Linked DNA regions of Homo sapiens. The protein of the gene in region 4 interacts with the protein of the main gene of each other region in a pairwise test. Each region holds a gene or a part of one and is shown on either strand. Other genes may lie near its edges.

The links.
Region 1: the proteins of NUDC (region 4) and DNAJA2 interact in binary tests that used the Homo sapiens proteins (3 or more experiments, as listed by UniProt).
Region 2: the proteins of NUDC (region 4) and POC1B interact in binary tests that used the Homo sapiens proteins (3 or more experiments, as listed by UniProt).
Region 3: the proteins of NUDC (region 4) and POC1A interact in binary tests that used the Homo sapiens proteins (3 or more experiments, as listed by UniProt).

The regions. Positions count from the first base shown.
Region 1 is NC_000016.10:46,956,671-46,963,696, forward strand, and holds part of DNAJA2 (dnaJ homolog subfamily A member 2), read right to left. Parts: intron 2,750-7,026; coding exon 2,605-2,749; intron 2,461-2,604; coding exon 2,333-2,460; intron 551-2,332; coding exon 359-550; 3' UTR 1-358. UniProt on the Homo sapiens protein: Co-chaperone of Hsc70. Stimulates ATP hydrolysis and the folding of unfolded proteins mediated by HSPA1A/B (in vitro).
Region 2 is NC_000012.12:89,516,022-89,523,047, forward strand, and holds part of POC1B (POC1 centriolar protein homolog B), read right to left. Parts: coding exon of another isoform or gene 6,792-7,026; exon of another isoform or gene 3,391-6,791; intron 1-3,390. Other genes in the region: POC1B-GALNT4 protein, read right to left, coding at 6,792-7,026; GALNT4 (polypeptide N-acetylgalactosaminyltransferase 4), read right to left, coding at 6,792-7,026.
Region 3 is NC_000003.12:52,151,412-52,158,617, reverse strand, and holds the start of POC1A (POC1 centriolar protein homolog A), read left to right. Parts: upstream 1-4,194; 5' UTR 4,195-4,245; coding exon 4,246-4,263; intron 4,264-7,206.
Region 4 is NC_000001.11:26,938,734-26,945,759, reverse strand, and holds part of NUDC (nuclear migration protein nudC), read right to left. Parts: intron 4,304-7,026; coding exon 4,100-4,303; intron 4,008-4,099; coding exon 3,942-4,007; intron 3,101-3,941; coding exon 2,984-3,100; intron 2,890-2,983; coding exon 2,695-2,889; intron 371-2,694; coding exon 287-370; intron 193-286; coding exon 74-192; intron 1-73. UniProt on the Homo sapiens protein: Plays a role in neurogenesis and neuronal migration. Necessary for correct formation of mitotic spindles and chromosome separation during mitosis. Necessary for cytokinesis and cell proliferation.

The DNA.
Region 1 (7,026 bases), on a different chromosome or scaffold from region 4:
CAAACTTTACAATGTGGGATTTAAATTTAAAATATGAAACATAAAAATCTACACAAAACTGATAAAAATCAAGCACAGATACCAGGATTGAAACTTATAATAATCCATGTGTGAAAGGGAGTCTTGTTTCCTTTCAAGTGCTTTATTCTGCTATGGAACAGTCAAAATGAAGATGTAAAGCTTTGTGGTTAGTTTAAATTATACACTCTGTAGATACTATACCAATTTTAAAAGTTATACATAGACCAACAGATGTCCCTCAGTTCATCTGGATTGATAAGACACTCCAGCTGGATTGCTGAGAACAAATCAGGCAAATGTGGAAAGAAAATCCACCTGTGCAATTTGTTTGCAGAGTTTACTGATGGGCACACTGCACTCCAGGTCCATGATGGCTGCTGCTTTCTTCATCAGAGCTATCATTATAGGCTTCACGCCTCTGACCACCTCCTGAGCCTCGAGTGCTATCAAATTCCTGAAGCTCTACCTCCTCTGTTTCTCCAATTATGTTAGGAACTTCCGGTCTAGATGGCAGAAGATCTTCTAGTTCCTTTATTAAAACAAACAAAAACCAGGTTGGTTGTAATATTTTCATCAACTTTCCTTTTGATACATAGAATCCAGTGTCTGTTTAAGAGTTTAAAAAGGGGCTGGGTGTGGTGGTTCATGCTTATAATCCCACCCAGCACTTTGGAAGGCTGAGGCGGGCGGATAATGAGGTCAGGAGATGAGACCAGCCTGGACAACATGGTGAAGCCTTGTCTCTACTAAAAATACAAAAAATTAGCCAGGCATGGTGGTGGGTACCTGTAATCCTAGCTAGTCAGAAGGCTGAGGCAGGAGAATCGCTTGAACCTGGGAGGTGGAAGTTGCAGTAAGCTGAGATTGTGCCACTGCACTCCAGCCTGGGTGACAGAGCAAGACTCCATCTCAAAAAAAAAAAAGTTAAAAAAAGGAATGTGGACTGGACTTTGAACTCTAAGTAAAAGATCACAAACTCATCACTCACAGGCCAAATTCTGCAGACATCTTTTGTGCAACCCATCTATTGCTTTAAGAACCAAAAAAAAGGTCATTATCTGCCAATACTTAAACATTAGAAAGTTTCTACAGGAGACACACCTTCCTGCATCCGGCATGGACACCAGCTTACGATAAAGGGGTAGTGGTCCTGCCCTCTGCAAATGAGGAACCTGTTCTCTCCAGGGAGTGCTACTCCTCATCACCACCCACACCGGGTCTACTTTACTCCTCTACAATTCCCTGCTTGGCCCCATCAACATTTACACCAGCAATACCCCATTTCCTAACAACTAGGAAAGCCTACCAATCACACAAATATACTTTAAAATTGAAAGTAACATGACTATTAAGAAACTTGAAGTCGGCTGGGTGCAGTGGCTCACGACTGCAATCCCAGAACTTCGGGAGGCAGGAGGATTGCTTGAGACCAGTCTGGACAACATAGCAACATCTCTATAAAAAGTTTTAAAAAGCATTAGCCAGGTGTGGTGGTACACACCCGTAGCAAGCCATGATCATGCCACTGCACGCCAGCCTGGGCAACAGAGCGAGACTCTCTTAAAAAGAAAGAAACTTGGCTGGGTGCAGTGGCTCACGCCTGTAATCCCAGCACTTTGGGAGGCCGAGGCAGGTGGATCATGAGGTCAGGAGATCGAGACCATCGATCTAACATGGCTAACATGGTGAAACCCTGTCTCTAACTAAAAATACAAAAACAAAATTAGCGGGGCGTGGTGGCGGGTGCCTGCAGTCCCAGCTACTTGGGAGGCTGAGGCAGGAGAATGGCATGAACCCAGGAGGTGGAGCTTGCAGTGAGCTGAGATCGTGCCACTGCACTCAAGCCTGGGTGACAGAGCAAGACTCCATCTCAAAAAAAAAAACAAAAACAAACAAACAAAAAAACCCCATAAACAAACAAACAACAACAACAACAAACTTACCAGGCATCGTGGCTCATGCCTGTAATCCCAGCTACTTGGGTGGCTAAGGCATGAGAATCACTTGAACCTGGGAGGCGGGGGGTACAGTGAGCCGAGACTACACCACTGCACTCCAGCTTGGGTGACACAGTGAGACTGTGTCTCAAAAAATTTTTTTTAAATTAGCCAGGCATGGCAACACACACCTGTAGTCCCAGCTCCTTGGGGGCTGAGGTGAGAGGATCGCTTCAGCCCAGGAGGTCGAGGCTGCAGTGAGCCACGATCACACCACTACACCCCAGCCTGGGTGACAGAGACCCTGTCTAAAAAACCAAAAACCGAACTCCAAACTTGGAAGTCAACTGTTGTTTAATTTAAAGAACACTTACAGAAAGCTTGTCTGGGTTGATCCAGTTGTTTTCAGGAAACTGCACATCAAACTTTATGTAAAGATCACCTTTTTCAAAGGGATTACGATACTGCGGCATCCCTTCACCTCGAACTACACGAACACACCCTATTATTTAAGAGGAAATGATTAATAATTTTACCCAAAAGAGGTGTTCAATTTTTTTTAGAGTTATGCAGTATAAAAAAATTACAAATTGTAATTTTTTTCAAAAATACTTGAAAACCAGAATCGGACAAAATCAAGATTTACCTGGTTCAATTACTTTGCCAGGGGGGTATTTCACCACAATCTGACGTCCATCAAGGTGCTTAAATGTGAACTGAAATCCACATAGAGCTTCAACAAGTCCTATTTTATATGTCATGTGCAAATCATTCCCATCTCTCTGAAATACCTATAAATAAAGCACAAAAGAAATACATTTTCTTAAAAATTATGGAGGTACACCCTGCAGCATTATGTTCCTTGACTTAATTTCAAAACCTTATTTCTACCACTCACTGCAAATCCAAAGTGCCACTGTCCCTAGTGCCCTAAACCGCATTAGGAAAGCTAGCTATTCCCAAGTAGTATGTGAGAAACTTCCATGAGGAAGGTGTACTGGAACTGGTAAACAATGGCATATATAAGAGCAACAGAACTGAGGCCCTCAAAACAGTGCCAGGTATATTCTGCAACTATTGCCCACTTTCAGACTCTGCCTCTGGTGAAAAAGGTACAGAATGCCCAGAGGGCTCCTACAGAACAGGCTCACCCTGGAGTGCTCCCCAGACATGATCGTAACAGGGAAGGGGGGAGGGTCCAAGATCAACATAAAACCCAACATCAACCAGTTAACACCCAGCCAGCAAAGTCAAGTGGCTCAATTCCGTGCTTCACACACATACCAACAAGTCTCACATCTCACTAAAATGCAAAACTGGCTCATTCAATATTACACTATAAGCCTATGGACTAGGTAATGCAAAAGGTATTGAGAATAAGCACAAAGAATGTTTCTGAGCCTTCAATGTGTAGGAAAAATACATCCAACTTCACACGCCCAACCTGCAATTTTTGCTTAGATTTTACAATGGTCACTCTTCTTGTAAAGAACAATCCTGGCCGGTTCACTTATAGAAAATCTGGTAGACAGGTTCTTTTCCTATGTTACTCTCCTAAATTTACTCATTAAACAAAGTTAAACCATTACCTTAACCAATGATTCTCTAAGTGTGGTTCTGGACCAGCAGCTTCAGGAAACTTGTTAGGAACACATATTCTTGGGCCCCACTTCCATTCCTGCCAGAAACAAGGCAGGCAAGATCCAGCATCTGTAGTCCTAACAAGCCCTCCAGGCAATTCTTGTGTGTGTGCTAAAGTTTGAGATCCAAGAAGGTATGTTATGTATGCACATATATTCAAGTGTTCCTCACAATGGGACCAATAGTTTTTTTAATGCAGGATTTTTCAACGCATTAAAAATGCTAAGTAGGCCAGGTGCAGTGGCTCACACCTGTAATCCCAGCACTTTGGGAGGCCAAGGCAGGCGGATCACAAGGTCAGGAGTTCAAGACCAGCCTGGCCAATATGGTGAAACCCCATCTCTACTAAAAATACAAAAATTAGCCAGGTGTGGTGGCACGCGCCTGTAGTCCCAGCTACTTAGGAGGCTGCGGCAGGAGAATCACTTGAACCTGGGAGGCGGAGGCTGCAGTGAACCAAGATCACACCACTGCACTCCAGCCTGGGCGACACAGCGAGACTCCATCTCAATAAGAAAAAAATAAAAAAATTTAAAAAAGCTAAATATAGGGTCAGAGCTTTGGGAGGCCAGTTCAAAACAGCAACATAGGGAGACAAAAAATTAAAACATAAACTAGGCTAGTTGAGGCAGGACGATCCCTTGAGCCCAGGATTTGGAGCCTGCAGGGGCAGTCCCTCCTCATTAATGATCCAGCCACTGCACTCCAGCCTGGGAGACAGAAGGACATCCTGTCTCTTAAACATAATAATAATAAATTTAAAATAAATGCTAAGTATACTGTAAAATGCCAGTGTTCTAAGAACCATCTTACCAAATATCCTTTGTTAAAGTCATACTATTTTAGGATGCATGCAGTGGCTCATGCCTATAATCCCAGCACTTTGGGAGGCTGAGGCAGGTGGATCACCTGAGGTCCTGGTCATCATGGCGAAATTCTGTCTCTACTAAAAATACAAAAACTAGCTGGGTGTGGTGGCATGAGCCTGTAGTCCCAGCTACTTGGGAGGCTGAGGCAGGAGAATCACTTGAACCCGGGAGGTGGAGGTTGCAGTGAACAGAGATCGCGCCACTGCACTCCAGCCTGGGTGACAGAGTGAGACCCCATTTCAAAAATAAAAACAAAAATAAAAAGTGGGGCAGGGCACGGTGGCTCACACCTATAATCCTAGCACTTTGGGAGGCCGAGGTAGGCAGATCACTTGAGGTCAGGAGTTTGAGACCAGCCTGGGCAACATGATGAAACCCCATCTCTACTAAAAATACAATTGCGCCACTACACTCCAGTCTGGGTGACAGGGCAAGACTGTCTCAAAAAAAAAAAAAAGAAAAGGGAACAGGAAGAGATACACATCACGTTCTTGTACAGGAGAGTTCAACTGAAAGTGATTTCAATAAAAAATGATTATGATTATCAGGATGGTTGTTGCAGCAGAGCGGGGAAGCTAAACAATTTGATGTTAAAAGTTTAAACAGAATAAACAAGCAAGGATGCCAGAGAGTTTCTGAAAAACAAGATTAATGAGGAGGGACCACCAAGCACTAGACCAGAAAACACTTAGAAGTCATATTTCTGAATAACAAAAGTACAGGTTATAGAGGCGTGACTAACATCACCAGGTTCTGTGGTTTGATGCTGTACAAGTGCACTATGGTAACCAGACCACCGAGACACACAAACAGGCACACTGACAAGTGACATGGCAGGATGATGACTATAGATGATACAGCACTCCCAAGAAGGAACGAGACAAACTTCCATTCTAACCTTTACCATCTTCTATTTTCTACTTTAGACAACTAGCTACATCTGCCTTCTGTTGAAAATTCCATGCCAATTCCACTGCTGCCAACAATTTTCAGAGATGAGTTACTTCCCAACACCTCCCCACAGGCCCCAAGAAAGAAGCTTATTCATAATCTCATTTGACTCTTTAATATCCAAAAAGTCCAGGGAAGCCAAAGCTAGTAAACGGGGCCCAGACCTTAAGTCCTTTGCCTCCAAATCCAATGATCTACTTTTAAAAACCCAATTTAATTATGCAGCAACATTAAAAACTAAACTTAGGGATAAAAAAGGTTTTACCATCAGTTTGACATGCCTCAAACCAAAAAAAAGTCATCCTTCCTCTGCAAATAAGCATTCCTTCTTCACTTCCTATCATGCTGCTGCACTGCCAGACATCATTTGACAACGAACCCCAAACGACTCCAAGGATTCTATCAATGAAAATGCCCAGGCACTGTCTGTACCATTTTACAACACAGTCTAACCTCCAAGCAGAATTTCCAATTATTTAGCTGTCTTGCTAGCTTTCTCCCTCATATTCCTGGTATGGTGGTGTGCACAGCAGCAAGACTGAAGGAACAAGGAAGTAGCTAAAATGTTAACAAATAGCAAATCTTGTAAATATTTCATTCTACAAGACCCAAAGGCAGAATTCTAAAAACTACTCTTACTTTTTGACAACCGAGGAGACGTTTGCTATCTGTAGGGTTGGCAATTTCCACAAAAAGCCAAAATACATAATTTGTAGCTTTGCTGAGTCATGAAAGCTGACTAGCATGCCCTGATTGTCCAGGAGATCAAGTCTGACCTTGTGAGGGATTACTACCAAATTCCTAAAACCTGCATCTCAATATGGCTTTGTTGTTCTCTATTGGATTCTTAAAGTGATTTTTAAAATTTACTCTATTTGAAGAAATGATCACCACAGAAGGACGATCTCCTTCTTTATCAAATATAACCTTTAAATTATAAATGATAATCAGCTTGCCCACCTTTTTAGAATTAAAAAGAATAACCTTTCACTGAACATAATACAAATTTACCATTTCTCCGTGTTCATTGGGCTTATGCATAGGAGAAAATTTTAGGGCAAACTAAAAAGGTGGTTAACCTGTGATGTAATGATTTTCAGAGGAACACATGAGTAAATGTGATCAAGTACAAAGCTAGAGTCCTATCAAGTGCTTCTAACATTCAAGAATTTAGGTGATTACTGGAGGGGTTTTTCATGAATAGTTCCAGATTTATTCTTTGAGTAGGGTCTACAGTATACAATATGGACATTAAAAATATACAAGTGCAATGTTAAAATCAAAATAACATACACTAGGCTGGGCACTGTGGCTCACACCTGTAATCCCAGCACTTTGGGAAGTTGAGACAGGAGGATCGCTTGAGCTCAGAAGTTCAAAACCAGCCTGGGCAATATGGCAAGACCCTGTCTCTACTAAAAATACAAAAAAAAAAAAAACCCCAAAAAACAAACAAACAAAAAAATAGATGGGCATGATGGTGCACCAGTTGTCCCAGCTACTTGGGAGGCTGAGATGGGAGGATTGCTTGGGCCCAGGGGCGAAGGTTGCAGTGATCCCAGATCACACCACTGTACTCCAGCCAGGGCGACAGAGCAAGACCATCT
Region 2 (7,026 bases), on a different chromosome or scaffold from region 4:
CCAAACAGATTGGAAACACTATAAATTTGATAACTAAGTTCACATGGGTCTTATATACTCCAAAGTGGTGCATGATTCTCTATTAGTTTCTTCCTCCACTCTCTCTAATGACTATTTAATATTGTCTCTATCTTCAACATTTCTACCCCACTCCTAACCCTTGGCTTTCATGATACCCTACTATAACGGCTTTCCCTCCTATCTTTCTGATTATTCTTTCTTAGGTTATTTTGCTATCTCCTCTTCTGATCTACAGGTTGGATATCTTCAATATTCAGACATGGGGTATTTGTTCTCATTGCTCTACATTCTTCCCAGGTGATCTCATTCATTCCCATGACACTAAATACCATTTATATGCTAATAATTCCCAAATTTCCATCTTGCCCAGACCATCACACTAATTTGAAGACCATTATCCTAGTTTGAACCAACATCATCTGCTGGTATTACTATAATCCCCCTAAGTGATTTCCCTACTAATAGTACAATCTCCATATAGTAGCCAGAGTGGTCTTTTTGAGGTACAAATCAAATCATGTTATTCCCTTACTAATCCCTCCAACAATTTCCACCACTCTCAGAACAAAATCCTAAAACATGTCAAGTTTCCTGTAGCTGCTGTAACAAATTACCATAAACCTGGAGGCATAAAACAACAGAAATTTATTATCTCACAGTTCCAGAAACCAGAAGCCTGAAATCATGGTGTTGGCCGGGCCACACTCTCTCCAAAGGCTCTAGGGGATATCTCATTCCCCACCTCTCCCAGGTCCTGATGTCTCTAGGCACTCACTGGCTTGTGGCTGTGTCACTCCAATCTCTGCCTCTGGCTTCACGTGGCCTCCTCTTATGTCCTCTGTATGTTTTTTACAAGGACACATCGCTGGATTTAGGGCCCACCCAGATAATTCAGGATGATCTCATAATCATTAAGATCCTTTGTAGACTTACATCTACAAAGACTTTTTCCTCCCAAATAAGGTCACATCACAGGTTCCAAGGACTACGACATGGACACATGTTTTGGAGGGCCACCATTTAAACCCACTATAGCTTCAAGGCCCTGCCTAAGCTATCTCTACCTCCCCCTACAGCTTCATCTCTGTTTACCAGGTTCTACCCATTCTGGCATTCTTATACTTTCTTGATCTAGGACAGCTCTTTCTCACCCATGATCTTTGCCTATGCTACTCTCCTTTTAGTCCTTACCTAGCTAACTTCTCCTTCTGGTCTTCAGTTAAATCTAACTTTCACAGGGAAGTATTCCTTGACCCCATAAATATAAGGATGTCTCCACTGTTATCCTCCCTTTAAAAAGCACTCTATGGCTGGGTGCAGTGGCTCACAACTGTAATCCCAGCACTTTGGGAGACTGAGGTGGGTGGATCACTTGAGGTCAGGAGTTCCAGACCACCCTGGCCAACATGGTGAAACCCCATCTCTACTAAAAATACAAAAATTAGCCAGGCATTATGGCATGCACCTATAGTCCCAGCTACTTGGGAGGCTGAGGCATGAGAATCGCTTGAACTTGGGAGATGGAGGTTGCAGTGAGCCAAGATCACACCACTGCACTCCAGCCTGGGCAACAGAGTGAGACTTGGTCTCAAAAAAAAAAAAGAAAAAAGCATTCTATTCCTTTCCTTCACAGCTTTGACTATTTTCCTTTGTTTCATCATGTTGTTCCAACAAATGGATTCGTGTTTACTTGTTAATTATTTGTCTCCACCACTGGACCATGAACTCTTCATACCATCTTATGAAGCACATCTGCTTTCTTCCCCTCTGTATGTATACCCAGAGCATAAAATGGCATCTGGCACACAGTAGCCTTAACTAAATAAGGGAGTAGTAAATAAATAGAGTGCCTCCTCTTCCCCTTTTGAACAGGATTAGATAAATGCAAATAGACAGGTTAGAATGGTGACCAGACACCCGAAGACACTGCTGGCCTGCAGTAGATATCACTCCCAGCCCAGCCTGGAAGATTGATAAAGCTTGGCACGAATGAAAAAGTAGTACCCCAATAATTATTAAGTTAGAAGGACTGCTCTAATTTTCCTTTTTTTTTTTTTTTAAACATGACACAGCATCAGGAGGTCCTGAGGACATGTGCCCTCTAATTTTCATTTCTGCTGTGGACAACTATACAACTCAGGAGCTCATTTCACCTTTTACAGTAATCTCCACCTCCTGTCCAAAAGGATTGATTGAAGTTTCTCTGAAATTTTAGGAAAAACTCCAATATAAACTGATTTCCAAGCCCCACCTAATACTAAGCAGACTGATTCATTCATATATATGTGTGTAACTTTCTTAATTCTGCAAATTACACAATGATTCAAGTATTATTAATACTAAATACTACTAGCCTGTTCTAAAGTCTAGCATGCACAGAGGCATGCAAAGAGGTCTAGCATGCAAAGAGAAATCTTTTCTGAGACACCTGAAATTCTCCAGCCTGCTTTTTTTCCTGAGGTATTTTTAAAAACTGAGATATTATTTAAATACCATAACATTTAGTCTTTTAAAGTACACCAGTGTTTTGCCCAACATTTGCACAACTTTTATCACAAATTCCAGAACATTCTCATAATCCCCTACCCCCTGCCACCTGCCAAAAATTCATCTCTGTTAGCGTTCTCTATTCCTCCCTTTCCCAGACCCTGGCAAACACTAATGTACTGTCTCTATGGATTTTCCAGTCTTTTTTATACTCGTGAAACTGAAACACAGAGAGATGAAGTGATTTACACAGAGCTGCAAGTCACTTAGAGAGTAAGGTTAGAATACAAGTATTTACAGGAACTTTTAAGTGTATAAAAATTAGTGAAAATATGTTTAGGTCACCTATATATATGCTAAATGCAGCTATAAGACCATCTGATTTTGTTAGAGTCCTTAGAAGAGTCATTCTCAGGCAGTGTGTCTGGCCAAGGAGAGACAGGGGTATAGGGATTTAGGAATCACTAAAGAGGAAGAGACAGGCCACTGGTGGAAGGGAATTTCATTTATGGACCGGGGAAATATGAGGATATGTGGTTTAGAGGACAGACATTTTTGTTTTCCACCCAGGGTAGTGAAATTGGTGCTAATATGTCCAGGTGCCCATTGCTTCCTTTTATAGTGGTCCAAGTGGGCCCCAGAGATCCCAGATCATTTCTAGTTTGCTCATGAGTAGTTAATAAAATAATGGTACTAACACCCCTTCAGAATACTTGCTGATTAATGACACGTTGTAAAATAATATGGGAATTTTGACTTTTTAAATATCCACTGTCTGAATTTTCAAATAAGTAAAAGAACTGCAAGCTGAACTTACTTCCATTGCCATTATAAATGTATACATAGGAGTATGTTCCCATAGGCTAAAATAATCACAATCTATTTGCAAAAATAATCAGGCACACTTTTTATTTTACATCTTAATCAACATTACAAATACAAAAGGAAAAAAGTCAGAAACAACTCATCACAGAGGAAAAAAACATCATTCAGAAGAGATTAATCTGAACTTCAACGTTCTTTGTGCTCATTTTAAAATTATTAAAACAGGAATTCAAAAGGACAAGCAAATAAAAACCAAGTATTTTATTAATTAAAATTGAGACCCTAAACCAACTAAGACTATACAACTTAAAAATAAGCTGTCTTCATCCTAGAAAAGTTTGATTTGCCATCTTATAATGAATATGCAGGAACTTACTAATGGGTAAGTAAACAAATTTTCTTTTACAAACAAGTTATTTTGAGTTATAGGGATCCTCCTGGTGACTAGATTTTTTTTAATGACTAAAAATGCCTATTTAGATAGTCAACCTATCCGTAAAGTTGGACACTAAATGACATAGTGAACATTTAAAGTTGAAACTCTTTGTCTACCAAATATTTTCCTAAAACTGTTTTTAAGCATATACATTAACTTAAAAGGTCAACTCTTAATTGTCTATAGCCAAAGAGAGCTTTGGTACCAATAAATTCGAATTAGGGAATCGGTTTTTTTAGATGTAGAATTACAGAGTATTTTTGGAATTAAATTGGAACGTGCCTAAATATGAAAATGTGAAAGTCCCACTTTTCTGTTATGTACTCTATTATGAGGAATGAACAGCCTAACTATACTGGATTATTGATATAAATAAAGCACCACTGTAAAATCTCTTCCTAAAAGATTGCTGGGTCACACCTAGCAATTTAGGGCAAAAAGTCAATAAAGAATTAAGGTACTTTATTTTTAAAAGCCTCATTTCCCTTTTGACAGGAGCATCAAGATACTAAAATAAAAATAATGTAATAAGTACTTTCAAAATATAACAATTTTCGTTCTCCCATATAACAGGTGGCTAACAAGAAAACCAAAAATAAATAAAAAGAGAAAATTTAAAAATAAGTAAAAAATAAAAAAATATTTTTAAAAAGCAGCCTGGGCAAGAGAAGTGGGTGGGTTTAGGAGAATCCCTTTCGAAAAATTCAGAGCATTATTATTAATCCTTCTTAAATTAAATGCAGGGCCAAGCATGCTGCACGTGGAATCTGGACAATTTTTTGATAAACTTTAAGGCTGCTAAATAATTTACAGAAACTGTGAATGCATTTTCATTTTACGAGGCAAAAGAGAAAATATTCAAGATTGCATAGCAATTTTATTTTTTGAAATGGTTATCCTAAAGAATTTCCTTAAATTCAGATTTTGCAAAATTCCTACTCTCCAAGTCATCAAGTGAACACTAAAAGCAACTTTACTCGTGAATACAGTGGACTCTTTACGAGGCATGCATTTTTCATAAATCTAGGCCAAAGTGAACTAATTGAGATTTAATTCTAAATTCATCCTGTGATTTCTGCATATAATATTGGTATAAAACCAGTAAAAATACTTTTAAAAAAAGCGTTTACTTCCCGAGTAATTTAGTTTGGAAATATTTACATTCTTAGTCAAAATATTACTTTCAGAGTCTAAAGGTTTTAAAAACAAAATTGGTTCAACAATTATCAAAACGAAACGACTATGAACACTGACTAGAACTTCTTAACCCACAGAAGTAAACCACTTCAGGTGAGTTCAGCTCACTTATTTTATTATTATTTTTTTTTTTTGAGACAGAGTCTTGCTCTGTCGCCCAGGCTGGAGTGCAGTGGCACGATCTCGGCTCACTGTAAGCTCTGCCTCACAGGTTCACGCCATTCTCCTGCCTCAGCCTCCTGAGTAGCTGGGACTACAGGCGCCCGCCACCACAGCTGGCTAATTTTTTGTATTTTTAGTAGAGACGAGGTTTCACCATGTTAGCCAGGATGGTCTGGATCTCCTGACCTCGTGATCCACCTGCCTTGGCCTCCCAAAGTGCTGGGATTACATGCGTGAGCCACCGCACCCGGCCTCCCCTCACTTAATTTTTAAAACCCATTTCTCTTCTCCAGCTTCACAACTGGACTGAACATTGCTCAACTGCTCAACAACATTACCTATGTCAAAAGTGAAAAGATAAAAAGTATTGTAAAGATTGCACAGTGAGTCAATCTGGGAAGAATATACTGTACAATCAGCATTTCAGAGCTGGAAGGGATCTTTAAGATCCAATCCAGCACCCACATTTTACCAATGAGAAAACTAAGCCCAAACACATCATAATAACTTGACCAAAGTTACATTCCTCAGCTGAGCCATTCATTCATTCATTCAGTCATTCATTCACCCACTTACTGAAAGCTGCCTAAGTGCCAGGCTCGGTGCTAGGAGATTGAAAGCACCATTCACAATTGCCAAGGCAGTCTTTTTTCCTTGCATTTTTAAGATAAATTCTTAAATTTCCTGATCAGCAGAACTCGTAGGAGAGTTCCACAGCCTTGGTAGAACCTAGCCCACTTTCAGTTTCACACATTTTAATAAACATAGTTGGGTTTAACTTCAGAGAGGCTTCAATTGTGTTTACTTTAAATGATTAAGCATTAACAAAGGGAGGCATAGTATTCTGGATGAGTCCCTTTCTAGTACATTCATAACTTAAGGAAGTGCAATCAGAAAATGCCCTACACACACAAACACGTTCACAGAGAAGACAGCTTACAAAATCAGAGGAATCTGAGGTATTAATATATACATCAGTGAAGTCCAATAGCTCAAGTTTACAAAGTACGGAATGTAAATATCTCCCCATTTCATTTAAATATGGGTATGTCTGCATGTTAAAAAGGCCTCCAAACTCACACTCAAACAAATGCCCTCTTCCAATTACACATATCTCTAAAACCAGGCCTTTTGCCTTAAGCTCAATTTTCTTTTTGATTAGAAAAAAATTAGATTAAAAAATAAAATCTAAAATTTAATGTGCTGGCTAAAAAAGAAATACAAATTCTATGTAATCAAAATAGCAATGGCTCAAACTGCACATTCATGAGTTTTGTTAAAAAGTGGGATGTGCGGTGAACTTACACATCAACATAAATCATACCTCATTTTACTTGGACCTTTACATTCTTTAATATTAAGTCTGGCACTTAAATGTTTTGTGTGTTTCAATTCATAGTCAACTTCTTTTAAGAAGAGACCATATTGACAAAACTCTTATATAAAACAACCAATAAGTAAGGCATTGTGAAATATTAAACAGCAGCACTCTGGGTACCCAGTTTCAGTGTGATATACCAAAATGAACCCCAGCTTTCCAGTGCTCCACAGATGACTGCTAGGTGGCTTTTGATAAAATAAAATACAATCTTCACTGAGGCTCTTAAGGCTCTTTGACTTTCTTGACACTACTGTCAGCTCATGACGAAAGTGCTGTTGTGCTCTATTTCTCAAAACTCCAAATTTGATTTTTATCTAGAGCATCACAAGTTCTCATTTGTACATCAGGTCGGCCCTCCGGTGTCCGATAAGCACTAAGACACAGTCCTGAGTGTGGGTGAAAAATAGTTCCATCTTCTTTAAAATGCCAAATAATGTTTGCTGGTACAGGGAACCCATCTTTGGGACAATTTTGCATTCCCACATAATTTTTTTGCTCAGGTACCTCTGCACATAAC
Region 3 (7,206 bases), on a different chromosome or scaffold from region 4:
GTCCGTACTAAAAATACAAAAAAATTAGCCGAGTGTGGTGGCACATGCCTGTAATCCCAGCTACTTGGGAGGCTGAGGTAGGAGAATCGCTTGAAGCCGGGAGGTGGAGGTTGCGATGAGCTGAGATTGCACCATTGCATTCCAGCCTGGGCAACAAGAACGAAACTCCATCTCAAAAAACAAAAAACAAACAAACAAGAAAACAAAAATTAGCCAGGCATGGTGGTGCACGCCTGTAATCCCAGCTACTCAGGAGGCTGAGGCAGGAGAATTGCTTGAACCTGGGAAGTGGAGGTTACAGTGAGCCAAGATTGAGCCACTACACTCCAGCTGCCTGGGTGACAGAGCAAGACTCCTTTTCAAAAAAAAAAAAAAAAGAAAGAAATAAAGAAAAAAGAAAACAGAATTCAGGGCTGGGCGCAGTGGCTCATGCCTGTAATCCTAGCACTTGGGGAGGCTGAGGCAGGTGGATCACCTGAGGTCAGGAGTTCAAGACCAGCCTGGCCAACATGGCAAAAACTCGTCTCTACTAAAAATACAAAAATTAGCTGGACATGGTGGTGCACACCTGTAATCTCAGCTACTTGGGAGGCTGAGGAAGGAGAATCGCTTGAACCCAGGAGGTGGAGGCTGCAGTGAGCCGAGATCGCTCCATTGCACTCCAGCCTGTGCAACAGGGGTGAGACTCCATCTCACACACACACAAAAATAATAAAAATAAAAAATAATTCAGTTGATAGAGAAGAAATAATTTTTTTTCTGAAAGAAACCAAAGTACTAGGAGAGGAAAAAACCATGAAAGCCTTTTAAATACACACACACACACACCCCCACCATCTTGGATGTTAGCTTTTAAGTAAGCTGACTTTAAGCCATTAAGCGCCTTTAAAAAAAACCTTTTAAATATCATTACCATATTTTAGCTAGAACAAATAACTGATATTTCAAAAGTAACACAAATATCAAACCAAAAAGGGCTTGATTTAGGAACCAAACCCAGGCTGTCCTGGTGAAAAAAAGTGGGCAGAACCTTAGCTATGGAACTGCAGTTTGGGGCAACAGCATTCCTCTTTCAGTTTGGCTTGGTTAGCAAAAAGGTGGCCTTGTTATGTAAATAAAGCCCCTTAGGTAATCAAAATAAAAAATCTCTCCTTATTTTTTTCTTTTTGCTGGCTGTTTTTCTCTCTCTTTTTTTTTTTTGAGACGGAATCTCGCTGCGTCGCCCAGGCTGGAGTGCGATCTCGGCTCACTGCAACCTCTGCCTCCCGGGTTCTGAGTGATTCTCCTGCCTCAGCCTCCTGAGTAGCTGGGATTACAGATGCCCACCACCATGCCCAGCTAATTTTGTATTTTTAGTAGAGATGGGGTTTCACCATGTTGGCCAGGCTGGTCTCGAACTTCTGACCTCAGGTGATCCACCCAACTCGGCCTCCCAAAGTGTTGGAATTACAGGCGTGAGCCACCTTGCCCAGGCTTTTTTCTTTTTCTGTTGTGGGAATTTAGCCAATTCAGAGGCCTTGTTCCCCAAACTTTGGAACTTTCCTTCAGATTTGATCAAGTCAGATATAATTCATCAACCTCAATGGGAAAAAGAATGAAACAACAAAAACAGAAACAAACAACAACAAAAAACAGTTAAGCAAAAAAAAAAAAAGTGATCGCACAATTTGTTTATTTATTTTATTTATTTTATTTTTTTTTGAGACGGAGTCTCGCCCTGTCGCCCAGGCTGGAGTGCAGGGGCTTGATCTAGGCTCACTGCAAGCTCCGCCTCCCGGGTTCATGCCATTCTCCTGCCTCAGCCTCCCGAGTAGCTGGGACTACAGGCGCCAGCCACCACGCCCTGTAATTTTTTGTATTTTTAGTAGAGACGGGGTTTCACCGTGTTAGCCAGGATGGTCTGCGATGTCCTGACCTCGTGATCCACCCGCCTTGGCTTCCCAAAGTGCTGGGATTACAGGCGTGAGCCACCATGCCGGGCTTGATCGTACAATTTATATGATTACTGAGCACTCTAATGGTAAGGAAAATTAAGACCAGCTGGTTGTTAACCTTAACTTCAGCCAAGAAAATCCCCAATTCGGCTACTTACCTAAGAACAGGTCTTAGGCTAAAGACTGCTCTCTACCATCCCAGAAGTAGGGAAAACTCAAACTTTCCTTCTCTGTTGGAAGCGAGCTCAAACTCCAGAAAGGAGTTACCTGCCTTCCATCGTCAGGGAAGCAGGAAAACCTGCCTTCCTTGTTGGAAACAAGTAAAACTCCAGAAAAAGGAGTTGTACAGTAAAATAAACTTTAGATGTTAACCAAATTTGGGAAGATCAGGAATTTTGTGGAGGGGGGCTCCCAGGCCTTAGCAAATTGTCCTGTAGATTTGAGCCATAAAGATAGCTCAAGCTGGTACCAAGCACCGATAGGAGATCTGTCAAAGGTCAGGGGCACCTCCACTCAGAATCCTTTCGTGGTTGCCAAACTGTCAACCCGAAATACCTGAGACAGGTCTCAGTCAACTTAGAAAATTTATTTTGCTAAGGTTAAGGACACACCCATGACACAGCCTCAGGAGGTCCTGACAACATGTGCCCAAGTGGCCTGGGCACAGCATGGTTTTATACATTTTAGGGAGACAAAATACATCAATCAATACATGTAAGATTTACATTGGTTTGATCTGGAAGGACAAGACAACTCGAAGTGGGAAACTTCCAGGTCATTGGTAGATTTAAACATATTCTGATTGGCAATTGGTTGAAATAATTATTATCAGTAGAAAGGGATATCTCGGTTAAGATAAGGGGTTATGGAGACCAAGGTTTTACCATGCAGATGAAGCCTCCAGGTAGCAGGTTTCAGAGAAAATAGATCGTAAATGTTTCTTATCAGACTTAAGGTTTTTGTTGATGTTAATGCTGGAGGGTATAATGAGGCATGTCCAACCCCCACTTCCCATCATGGCCTGAACCACTCTTTCAGGTTAAATTTGAGTGCCCTGGCCAAGCAGGGAGTCTATTCAGATGGTTGCTGGTGGCCTTCAAATTTTATTTTATATATATATATATTTTTTGAGACGGAGTCTCCCTCTGTTGCCCAGGCTGGAGTGCAGCGGCAACATCTAGGCTCACTGCAATCTCTGCCTCCGGAGTTCGAACAATTCTCCTCCCTCAGCCTCCCGAGTAGCTGGGTTTACAGGCGCGTGCCACCACGCCCGGCTAATTTTTGTATTTTTAGTAGACATGGGGTTTCACCATGTTGGCCAGGCTGGTCTCATACTCCTGACCTCAGGTGATCCACCCACCTCGGCCTCCCAAAGTGGCAAAGTGCTGAGATTACAGGCGTGAGCCACTGAGCCCGGCCTCTCCTTCTTTTAAAGACTGGGTTTCTAACAGCTTCTGAGGCCTTAAGGATCCTGACAGGGCCGGGCTGCACCACACTCCCTCGTGTTACAAATGGGGAAACCGGGGCACAGAGCAGAGGCGTTTTTCCTGAGATCACACAGCCAATCAGGGCGAGAACTGAGAATCGAACCTTGATCTCTCCACTCCATGATTGTGATTCCGAGTAACTCATGTTATTTTAAATCGACACTTGTCTTAAGAACGTTCGGACGGCGAACCACTGAGAGTTCCCGAGGGGCGAATACTCAGCTCTCAATAGGTTCCTGCGGGGAAAATCTGGCTGCGCCGGCGCGCGCGGGTGCTTTAACGCAATCTGGTTACAGCAACCCACGTGTCCTCCGCTTCCGGGATCCTTAAGGCCGTCGCTTCGGGTGGTAAAACCCGGCCCGCCCTCTTGTTGCCCAGGCTGGAATGCAATGGTGCAATCTCATGTTGGGAAGTGTAGCTCCACCTTCCTCCAGACATAGGGGCGTGGGCGGCTTGGAACTGCATTTCCCAGGAGGCTGCGCTCGCCGTTAGAGTAGCCGGACGACGGGCTGGTGGGGTGAACCCTTCATCCTGGGTCTTTTAATTTCTCAGGCGGAACGAGTGGCGGCGGACAGAGGCTTTTGGCTGCGCTGTCTGTGGGTTGTCTGGGCTTGGGGAACTGGGCACGGAGACCGTGGCGCCGGCCGCCGGTCATACAGCTCTGCTTCCAGTCGTCGGGCAAAAAGCTGAGGCGCTTCTCCTTTAATTGCGGTGGGCGGGGCGTGCCGACGCGGCCCGCGTTGCTATTGGTGGCCGTTGGGGGCGCGGAAACTGAACGGGCCGCAACGGCCACCGCAGCTGCCTTCGGCGCCGCCAGCCCCGCCATGGCTGCGCCCTGCGCGGTAAGCCCAGCCGAGAGCAACTCCCCAGGCCTCAGTCTCCCCGCTGGGACACTGGGCGCCTAATGGCCAGAGCGATGGCTGCGAGGGGCGGGCGGGGCGCCAGGTTCCAGGGTGGTCCTCTTCAGGTCCAGTTTACTGTCTGCGCAGGGGGCGCTGGGTCGGGCACTTTCTGAGCGCCTCCTGCGTGCCAGGCCCTGCGCTGGGTTTCTGGAGCGAACAAACAGGCCTCTGCCTCCATAGTTTGCATCCTAGCGAGGGACACACGACCAAGTCCCGACTCATGTGTGACCTGGGGCCGGTATCGGGCCTCTCTAGCCATTCTCCACGTCCTTAGCAGTGGGTGGCTGCGTGGGGTCTTGTTGAGGGTACACCCTGCTCCAGCAGGTAGGTACAGCAGGACGCTGGGATGCCCGGGCCTGCAGTGTGAGCGGGGCGGAGCCGCCCTCTCTGAGTTCACATTCCTCCAGAAGTCCTCATTTCGAGAGATTCCTTTGAACGGGCAAGGCCCTCTGGCTGATTGGAGAGTCAGGGAGGCTGGGTGGTAGCCTGTGATGCCCTGAGGCACTTGAGGACATGGACGGAGATTCCAGGCTAGGATACAGACCTTTTGACTCCTAATCTGGTACTCTACCTCCCTTCCTGTCCCCTCATGTATAAACCACTGTTGAGGGAGATGAGGCCCACATGCAGGGAACTACAGAGGGGAGGCGGTGTTGAGAGATACCATGGGACCTACTGGTCAGGGGTGGACCTGAACTTGCCTCTGCCCACTGAGCCTAGGGGCGGACACTCTCTTACGCATGTTCTTTCAAGAAGCTTAGGTGAGAGCAGAAGGCTCTGTTGGGGACCCTCCCCCAGCTGCTCCTCCCTCTGTTGTTGAAAGGAGACTCTGACAGGTGCGTTAGGGGTGGAGCTGGGCACAAGGCCATAGGGCCTTTGTTCTGGTTACTGCTCTGTAGGGTGGCAGTGGCTTTGCTGTGCCCCAAGGACATCCTTTCCCAGGAGGAGCCTTTGGGCTTCCTGGAGCACCCAAAATGCTTCTTTGAGGTTTCTGATACTTAGAGTAGGGGGAGATGTTTGGATGGCTGAATTATAACCCTTCAAGTGTTAAGACACAAGCTGCTATTGGATGGAGAGAGTCTCCGGAGTATTCTCTCTGGTGTTTTAACTTTATTAAGTTATTCATACACCACAGAATTCACCTTTTAAAGTGTACATTTCAGTAGTTTTTAGTACATTCACAGTGTTGTGCAACTGTAATCACTAATTCCAGAATATTTTCATCATCCCAAAAAGAAACTCCATACTCAATAACAGTCATACCATTTCTTCTCTTTCCCCATTTTCTCCCAACCCTTGGCAAACTAATATATTAATACTTTCTGTCTCTATAGATTTGACTATTCTGAACTTTTCATATGAATGGAATCAGACAAAATGTGGCCTTTGGTGTTTGACTTCTTTCACTTAGCATGTTTTCAAGGTTCATCCATGTTGCAGCAAGCATCAGCACTTCAGTCGGTTTTATGGCTGAATAATATTCTGTTGTATGAATATGCTACATTTGGTTTATTCAGTCATGTGTTGATGGATCATTTGGGTTCAATCACTTGTTGGCTATTAAGGAAAATGCTGCTCTGAACATTTGTGTACAAGTTTTTGTGTAAACCATGTTTTCAACTCTTTGGGGTATTTACCTAGAATTGCTGGGTCATTTGCTAACCACGTTTAACTACTTTATTTTTTATTTTATTTATTTATATTTATTTTATTTATTTATTTTTTGATTAGGAGTCTCACTCTGTCGTCCAGGCTGGAGTGCACTGGTGCAATCTCGGCTCACTACAACCTCCTCCTCCTGGGTTCAAGCGATTCTCCTGCCTTAGCCTCCCAAATAGCTGGGACTATAGGCGCCCACCACCACGCCTAGCTAATTTTTGTATTTTTAGTAGAGAGGGGTTTTCACCATGTTGGCCAGGCTGATCTTGAACTCTTGACCTCAGGTAATCTGCCCGCCTTGGCCTCCTAAAGTGCTGGGATTACAGGCGTGAGCCACTGTGCCCGGCTAACTACTTTTTTTTAGTCAGGGTCTTGCTCTGTTGCCCAGGCTGGAGTGCAGTGATGTGATCACAGCTCACTGCAACCTTGAACTCCTGTGCTCAAGCAGTCCTCCCACCTCACCCTCCTGAGTAGCTGAGAATACAGGCATGAGCCACTACGTGTGGCTAATTCTTTAATTTTTTTGTAGGGTCAGGGTCTTGCTGTGTTGCCCAGGTTGGTCTTGAACCCCTGGCTTAAAGTGATCCTCCTGCCTCAGCCTCCCAAAATGTGGGGATTACAGGTGTGAGCCACTTCACCTGACCTATGTTTAACTTTTTGAGGAACTGCCAAATTACTTTCTATAGTATCTGTGTTTTTTGTTTGTTCGTTTGTTTGTTTGTTTTTAAAGATTTTTTTTTTTTTCTGGGTGTCTTGCATTTTCATGTGAATCTTGGGAGCAGCTTGTCAGTTTCTGCAAAAAAGACACCTGGGATTTTGATAGGAATTATGTGGAATCGGTAGATCAATCTGAGGAGTATCGTAGTATTGTATCTTAACAATAGTAAGTCTTCCTGTTCATGAATGTGGAATGTCTTTCCATTTTTTAAGTCTTCTTTCATTTCTCTTAGTGATGTTTTGTCGTCTTTACTGTACAAGTCCTGCACTTCTTTTGTTAAATTATTCCTTTTTTTTTTTTTTTTTTTGAGACGGAGTCTCGCTCTGTCACCCAGGCTGGAGTGCAGTGGCACAATCTCTGCTCACTGCAAGCTCCGCCTCCTGGGTTCACACCATTCTCCTGCGTCAGCCTCCTGAGTAACTGGGATTATAGGCGCCTGCCACCATGCCCGGCTAATTTAAAATATTGCTATTTTTTTTATGTATCATAAATAGTTTTATTTTTTG
Region 4 (7,026 bases):
CACTCACTGCTGTCACCGAAGTCTAAGCCCCCAGGCACCCACGGTCCCCCAACCCCGTCTCTGAATTGCTCACTTCTTCAGAATCTCCTGTTTCTTCTGTTCGTCTGAAGTTGGCAGCCCCATGGACTTCTGTCGCTGGTCATACATCATCTTTTCCACCATGCTGCGAGTCTCACTGTCCAGGTCTGACAGCTGAGGGCAGGCAGTGACAGGAATCGGTGAAGCTCTGGAAACAACGAGGCCCCTCACCTTCCTGCTGAAGCTCCCCCAACCAGCCAGGGCTCACCTTGGAATTCTCAGGGTTAATCTTCTTGGTGTTGATCTCAGGGTCACTGGACACCAAGCGGCTCCACCACTCCATCTTATTGATCTGTGAAGAGAACAACCAGAGGGTGGGAGGTGGCCTGCTCTGTGCACCAGGAATCACCCCTTAACCCTTTCACAACCAAACTCTCTCCCATCCACATCCTGCACCTGAGACCCTTGCAGGCCTACACTGGATCCAGAGGTACAAGACTGTGCCCTTCCTGCAGCTAGGGGAGACACAGAGGCAAAGAGTTACAAATCAGTGTGATAAGGGAAAGAAGAAAGCAGAAAGGGAGATATTCATCCAGGGTGGAGGGAGAAAAGTTTGAAAGTGACACTCGGGCTGAGTCTTAAGACACAAAGCAGTATTCCAGATTTAAAATGGGAAGAAAATAAATATATATATTTTTTGAGATGGAGTCTTGTTCTTCTTGTCCAGGCTGGAGTGCTGTGGCACCATCTCGGCTCACTGCAACCTCTGCCTCCCGGGTTCAAGCAATTCTCCGGCCTCAGCCTCCCGAGTAACTGGGATTATAGGCATGCACCACCACACCTGGCTAATTTTTGTATTTTTAGTAGAGACGGGGCTTCACCATATTGGGCCAGGCTGGTCTCAAACTCCTGACCTCAGATGATCTGCCTGCCTCAGTCTCCCAAAGTGTTGGGATTACAGGTGTGAGCCACCATGTGCAGTGGTGCAGTCAGCTCACTGCAACCTCCACCTCCTGGGTTCAAGCGATTCTCCTGCCTCAGACTCCCAAGTAGCTGGGATTACAGGCGCCCACCACCATGCCCAGCTAATTTTTTGTATTTTTATTAGAGATGGGGTTTGCCATCTTGGCCAGGCTGGTCTCAAACTCCTGACCTCGTGATCTGCCCACCTCAGCCTCCCAAAGCGCTAGGATTACAGGCATGAGCTACCACGCCCAGCCAGAAAAAGTTTTTAAGCAGGGAAGTGCCAGGTGCAGTGGCTCCTACCTGTAATCCCAACACTTTGGGAAGCCAAGGCAGGAAGATCCCTTGAGCCCAGGAGTTTCAGACCAGCCTGGGCAACATGAGACCCTGTCTTTACAAAAAACATTTAAAAATTAGCCAGGTAGGGTGGCGCTCGCAGTTACTCAGGAAGCTGAGGTGGGAGGGTCGTTTGAGCCCGGGAGGTCAAGGCTGCAGTAAGCCGTGATTGCGCCACTGCATTCCAGCCTGGGTGAGAACAAGACCCTGTCTCAAAAAATAAAAAATAAATTTAAAAGGCAGGGAAAGGGCTGGGCATGGTGGCTCACACCTGTAATCCCAGCACTTTGGGAGGCCGAGGTGGGCGGATCACAAGGTCAGGAGATCGAGACCATCCTGGCTAACACGGTGAAACCCTGTCTCTACTAAAAAATAGAAAACAAAACAGACAAAAAAAAAAATACAGGCATGGTGGCGGGCGCCTGTAGTCCCAGCTACACTGGAGGCTGAAGCAGGAGAATGGCATGAACCCAGGAGGCGGAGCTCGCAGTGAGCCGAGATCGCGCCACTGCACTCCAGCCTGGGCGACAAAGCAAGTGCAGAGGCATGGAGGGGTGAGTGAGTGAAGGCAGCCAGTGCCAGTCGGACAGGCTGTTACAGGGTCTTATGTGCCCTGGGAAGTTCTCCTCAGACCCTTGGCCCTTTTCAGACCACCTTTATTTACTGATCTCTGTGTCCTACCTCTCTGTAAAGGCAGTGAGGTTGAGAATGAAGGCTTCCTGAGGGCACATATTTTCCTATGTTTTGTTCACTGTTCTCTTTCCAGCACTTAGAACAAGAACAGTACCAGGCACAGAGCAGGTGTTCAAGTATTTGATGAATTGAATGCATGTACAAACCTAGTGAAAAAGAAGTGGCTTTAGAAACTAAGACTTTCAATTCTGACTCCACCCCTTCCCAGAGGTAGGAGCTTGGGTAAATCAACGAGCTCTTTTCCTGACTCAAGCCTGTAATCTCAGCACTTTGGGAGGCCAAGGTGTGAAGATCACTTGAGGCCAGGAGTTCAAGACCAGCCTGGGAAATATAGTGAGACCCCCCGGTCTCTACAAAAAAATTTAATAACAAAAATTAGCCGAGCGTGGTGGTGTACACCTGTAGTCTTAGCTACTCAGGAGGACGAGGCGAGAGAATTGCTTGGGCCCAAGGGTTCAAGGCTGCAGTGAGCTAAGAAGGTGTTACTGCACTTCAGCCTGGGCAACAGAGTGAGACCTTGTCTTTAAGAAAATAAAATAGAGACAGATCTACTTTAAAGAGTGTTGTCATGGGGATTAAGATAATCCCACAATGCCCCCAGCATGGCTCCTGAGTAAACTAAGCACACATCCTCCCTTCTACTTCCATCAACACCCCAGGCTAGAAGGGCTGGGCCTCACATACCTTCTCCAGATGCACAGTCACCACCTTGCCGTCCTCAATGAGCCACGAGCTCTCCTCCACCTTCACTTCATTGTAGAGCTCCCCATCAATGATCGCTGGCTGCCCCTTGAGCCCCACCCGGAGGTGCCGCCGCTGGATGTCCACCACCATGTCCTTCCCTTTCAGCCGGAAGTTCACACAGAAAGGGACCGCCAGCTGCATAGGGCAGAGGCAGTCAGAAGAGGCCACTAAGTGCTGCTGGTACCCCAGGCTGGCCCCCTAAGCTTTACCTCTGGTCCCTGACACTCACGTCCAGCTCCGACAGGGTCTGGGTCCAGCGGTAATTGGGCAGGTCTGCCCCGTTGCCTAGGTTGGGCTTCAGTTTTCCTTTGTCCTTCTCATCTTCCTCCTCATCTTCCTCAGTATCCTGCTTACAATCAGGGACACTCAGCTACTTACTTGACAGACAAGACACAGATTGAACCCTCACTGGGCCAAGCCCAGGGCTAGCACTGGGCATACAGCCACAAAAGAAAACAGACCTGGTCCCTGCCCACTCCACAGAGGGGCAGACCCCCAAGCCTTGGTCCACTGGGAACCAGGTAAAACTTGGTTCTGATCTCAGTCTGAGAGGAGCTCAGACTATTAATATTATACCATGTGACAAAGGATATGGCTGGGCCCACAGAACCCAGCCAACCTCAGATGGGACCTGTAATAGGCACTGCCCTCTCTGGCTATTGGGTTTTCTTGCCATAAACAGGTTAAGGTCAGTCGGTTTTTATTTTATTTTTTTGGGACGGAGTCTTGCTCTGTCGCCCAGGCTGGAGTGCAGTGGCGTGATCTCGGCTCATGGCAACCTCCGCCTCCCGGGTTCAAGCAATTCTCTGCCTCAGCCTCCCGAGTAGCTGGGATTACGGGCGCCCACCACCATGCCTGGCTAATTTTTGTATTTTTAGTAGAGATGGGGTTTCACCATCTTGGCCAAGTTGGTCTTGAACTCCAGACCTCGTGATTTACCCACCTCGGCCTCCCAAAGTGCTGGGATTACAGGTGTGAGCCACTGCGCCTGGCAGGTTTTTATTTTTTTAACCTGGATCCTTTGGTTCAATGTCTCTGAGTGTGATCTTAAAGTATGGGGAAGATTCCCAAAGCCAGGAGGGGAGGGGATAGGATAAGGAAGGGTATTCCAGAGAAAGCAGTAGGCAGGAGATTTCCTGTAAGTTCCAAGCTCCTGGCTCATCCCAAGTCCCTGCAGTCCATCTCACCTGCTTCCCTGGGGAGTCAAGGCTGCCGTTCTTGAGCTGGGCCTCATGATTCTCTGCATCCTTTTTCTGGGGCAAAGAGCACAGCAGTTGGCAACAGGACCCCACTGCTCAGTGCCAGGGGGGATCTGAGGGGTGGAGAAGGGAAGCCCACCCTTCACCTGGTCAATCTCTAGCTGCAGCCTCTCTGCCTCTTCATCAGTTAGCTCCTTGATCTGGGGCCCTGAGGTCTCTGACTTGGCTTCCTTGGCCAGTCTGGCCGCCCGCTCCGCCTTCTCCCGCCGCTCGGCCTCCTGCCGGGCTCTCTTCTCCCGCCGGGTCTTCTGTGCCAGCTGATTGTGGTGGCTGAAAGTCTGTGTGATAAGCTGGAGAGGGAAGAAAGGCCATGAGGCATCAGAGCAGGGGACAGTGTCCCACAGCCTGGAGTCCAGCCCCACTCTCTACCTGCTGGGTGCAAGGGCAAAGCACTGCACCCAGAAACTCGGTTTCCTCATGTGCAAAATGAGGAAAATACATCTATCTCATAGGGTTGTAATGACAATACCTGCAAAGCACCTGTCTCAATAAACTGGCTGTTTTAAAAAGTGATGCTTGGCCGGGCGCGCTGGCTCACACCTGTAATCCCAGCACTTTGGGAGGCTGAGGAGGGTGGATCACAAGGTCAAGACCATCCTGGCCAACATGGTGAAACCCTGTCTCTACCAAAAATACAAAAAAAAAAAAAAAAAAAAAAAAAGCTGGGCATGGTGGCGGGGGCCTGTAATCCCAGCTACTCGAGAAGCTGAGGTGGGAGAATCGCTTGAACCTGGGAGGCAGAGGTTGCAGTGAGCAGAGATCGTGCCACTGCACTCCAGCCTGGTGACAGAGCAAGACTCCATCTCAAAAAAAAATAATAATAATAAATAAAGGAATTGGAGACTAATCTGGCCAACATGGTGAAACCCCGTCTCTACTAACAATACAAAAAAATTAGCCAGGCGCGGTGGCGTGCGCCTGTAATCCCAGCTACTCAGGAGGCTGAGGCAGGGGAATTGCTTGAACTAGGGAGGTGGAGGTTGCAGTGAGCTGAGATCAGGCCACTGCACTCCAGCATGGGTGACAAAGCGAGACTCTGTCTCAAAAAAACCAAAACAAAAAAAGTGGCGCTGTTTAAAGTAAAAACTCAAGCCTCAGTCCCTCACAAGCCTTTCCTGAGTTCTCAGGCCCACTCCTCTGACTAATCACTCTTACTCTTAGTGCATCCTGTCTCCAAGACCACAGTCCAGCTATGCAAGACTTGACACCACACCCAAAAAGGACACGTTAGCAGAAAGCCAGGGAGCTTTTTTTTTTAATTTTTTTTTTTGAGATGGAGTTTCACTCTTGTTGCCCAGGCTGGAGTGCAGTGGCGTGATCTTGGCTCACTGCAAGCTCCGCCTCCCGGGTTCAAGTGATTCTCCTTCCTTAGCCTCCCGAGTAGCTGGGATTATAGGCATGTGCCACCACGCCTGGCTAATTTTGTATTTTTAGTAGAGATGGGGTTTCTCCATGTTGGTCAGGCTGGTCTCGAACTCCTGACCTCCAGTGATCCGCCTGCCTCAGCCTCCCAAAGTGCTGGGATTATAGGTGTGAGCCACCGTGCCCGGTCAAAGTGCTGGGATTATAGGTATGAGCTACCGCGCCAGGTCAAAGCCAGGGAGCTTTCTTGAAGGAAGAGCCTGTTCACCCTCTCTCCAGCAAGCAAGCTATCAACTTCAAATCCTTTTTCTCCACTACACCTTCCCAGGAGGTTTCCACTCCAGGATGTGCTAGCCAGCCTCCCTGCTACCCAAGGACAACCCTCCACCCATACTATTGCCACCTGTCATTATTTGGCTCCTGGCCTTAGACAAGTGAACAACTTTGACTCTTTCTAAGCCTGTTTCCTTATCCGTCATGAGGATTGAGTATGACAGCACAAATCAAGAGCCTAGTGAGGTCCACATCACAGGGTTCCCCTGACCTGCAGCATCAGCATCACCTGGAACCTGTTAGAAACGCTAAATCTTAAGCCCCACTCCAGATCTACTGGATCAGAAATTCTGGGGTATGGCCAGGCAATCTGTATTTTTAACAAGCCCTCCTGGCCAATTTCCATGCATACTTCAAAATCACACCTAGATTTGAGTTCCTGGTCTACTCTTACCTGCGTGACCCTGAGGTCATGTCTCTGTGCCTCTATCTTGTTATTATTATTATTATTTTTGAGGCATGGTCTCACTCACCCAGGCTGGAATGCATTCGACCTCCCTGGGCTAAGGTGATCCTCCCACTTCAGCCTCCCCAGTGGCTGGGACTATAAGTACATGCCACCATGCCTGGCTAATTTTTGTATTTTTTTATAGAGACAAGGTTTTGCCATGTTGCCCAGGCTGGTCTCAAACTCCTGGGTCAAGTGATCCACCTGCCTCATCTTCCCAAAGTGCTGGGATTACAAGTGTAAGCCATTATGCCTGGTCTAAGTTATTATCTCTAAAAACAGTCTTGGCCAGGTGTGGTGGCTCATGCCCGTAATCCCAGCACTTTGGGAAGATGAGGCAGGTGGATCACTTGAGGCTGAGGCGGGCAGATCACCTGAGGTCAGGAGTTCTTGACCACCCTGGCCAACATGGTAAAACCCTGTCTCTACTAAAAATCCAAAAATGAGCCCGGTGTGGTGGCACACGCCAGTAGTCCCAGCTACCTGGGAGGCTGAGGTGGGGGAATCACTTGAACCCGGGAGGCAGAGGTTGCAGTGAGCAGAGATCGCGCCACCAGCCTGGGTAACAGAGGGAGACCCTGTCTCAAAATAAATAAAAGCAATCTTGGCATGTGTTGTTCTTTGCCTAGAATGTCTCATCCCCATTCTCAGGTCACCTGGCAAACCAATTCATCCTCCATGACCAGTCAAGTGTCAAAGTTTCACCTCTGGCCAGGAACATACCCTTAGGACACTCAACTCAATGCCAACCCATACACAGTGTGCATGTGCACACATACGCACATACCCCTAGAGGCCTTGCAGGGCACTTGCCATGTGATCAGTGGTCAATAAACCCTCTTTCAAGCATCTCTAAGGCAGAACTGCAGG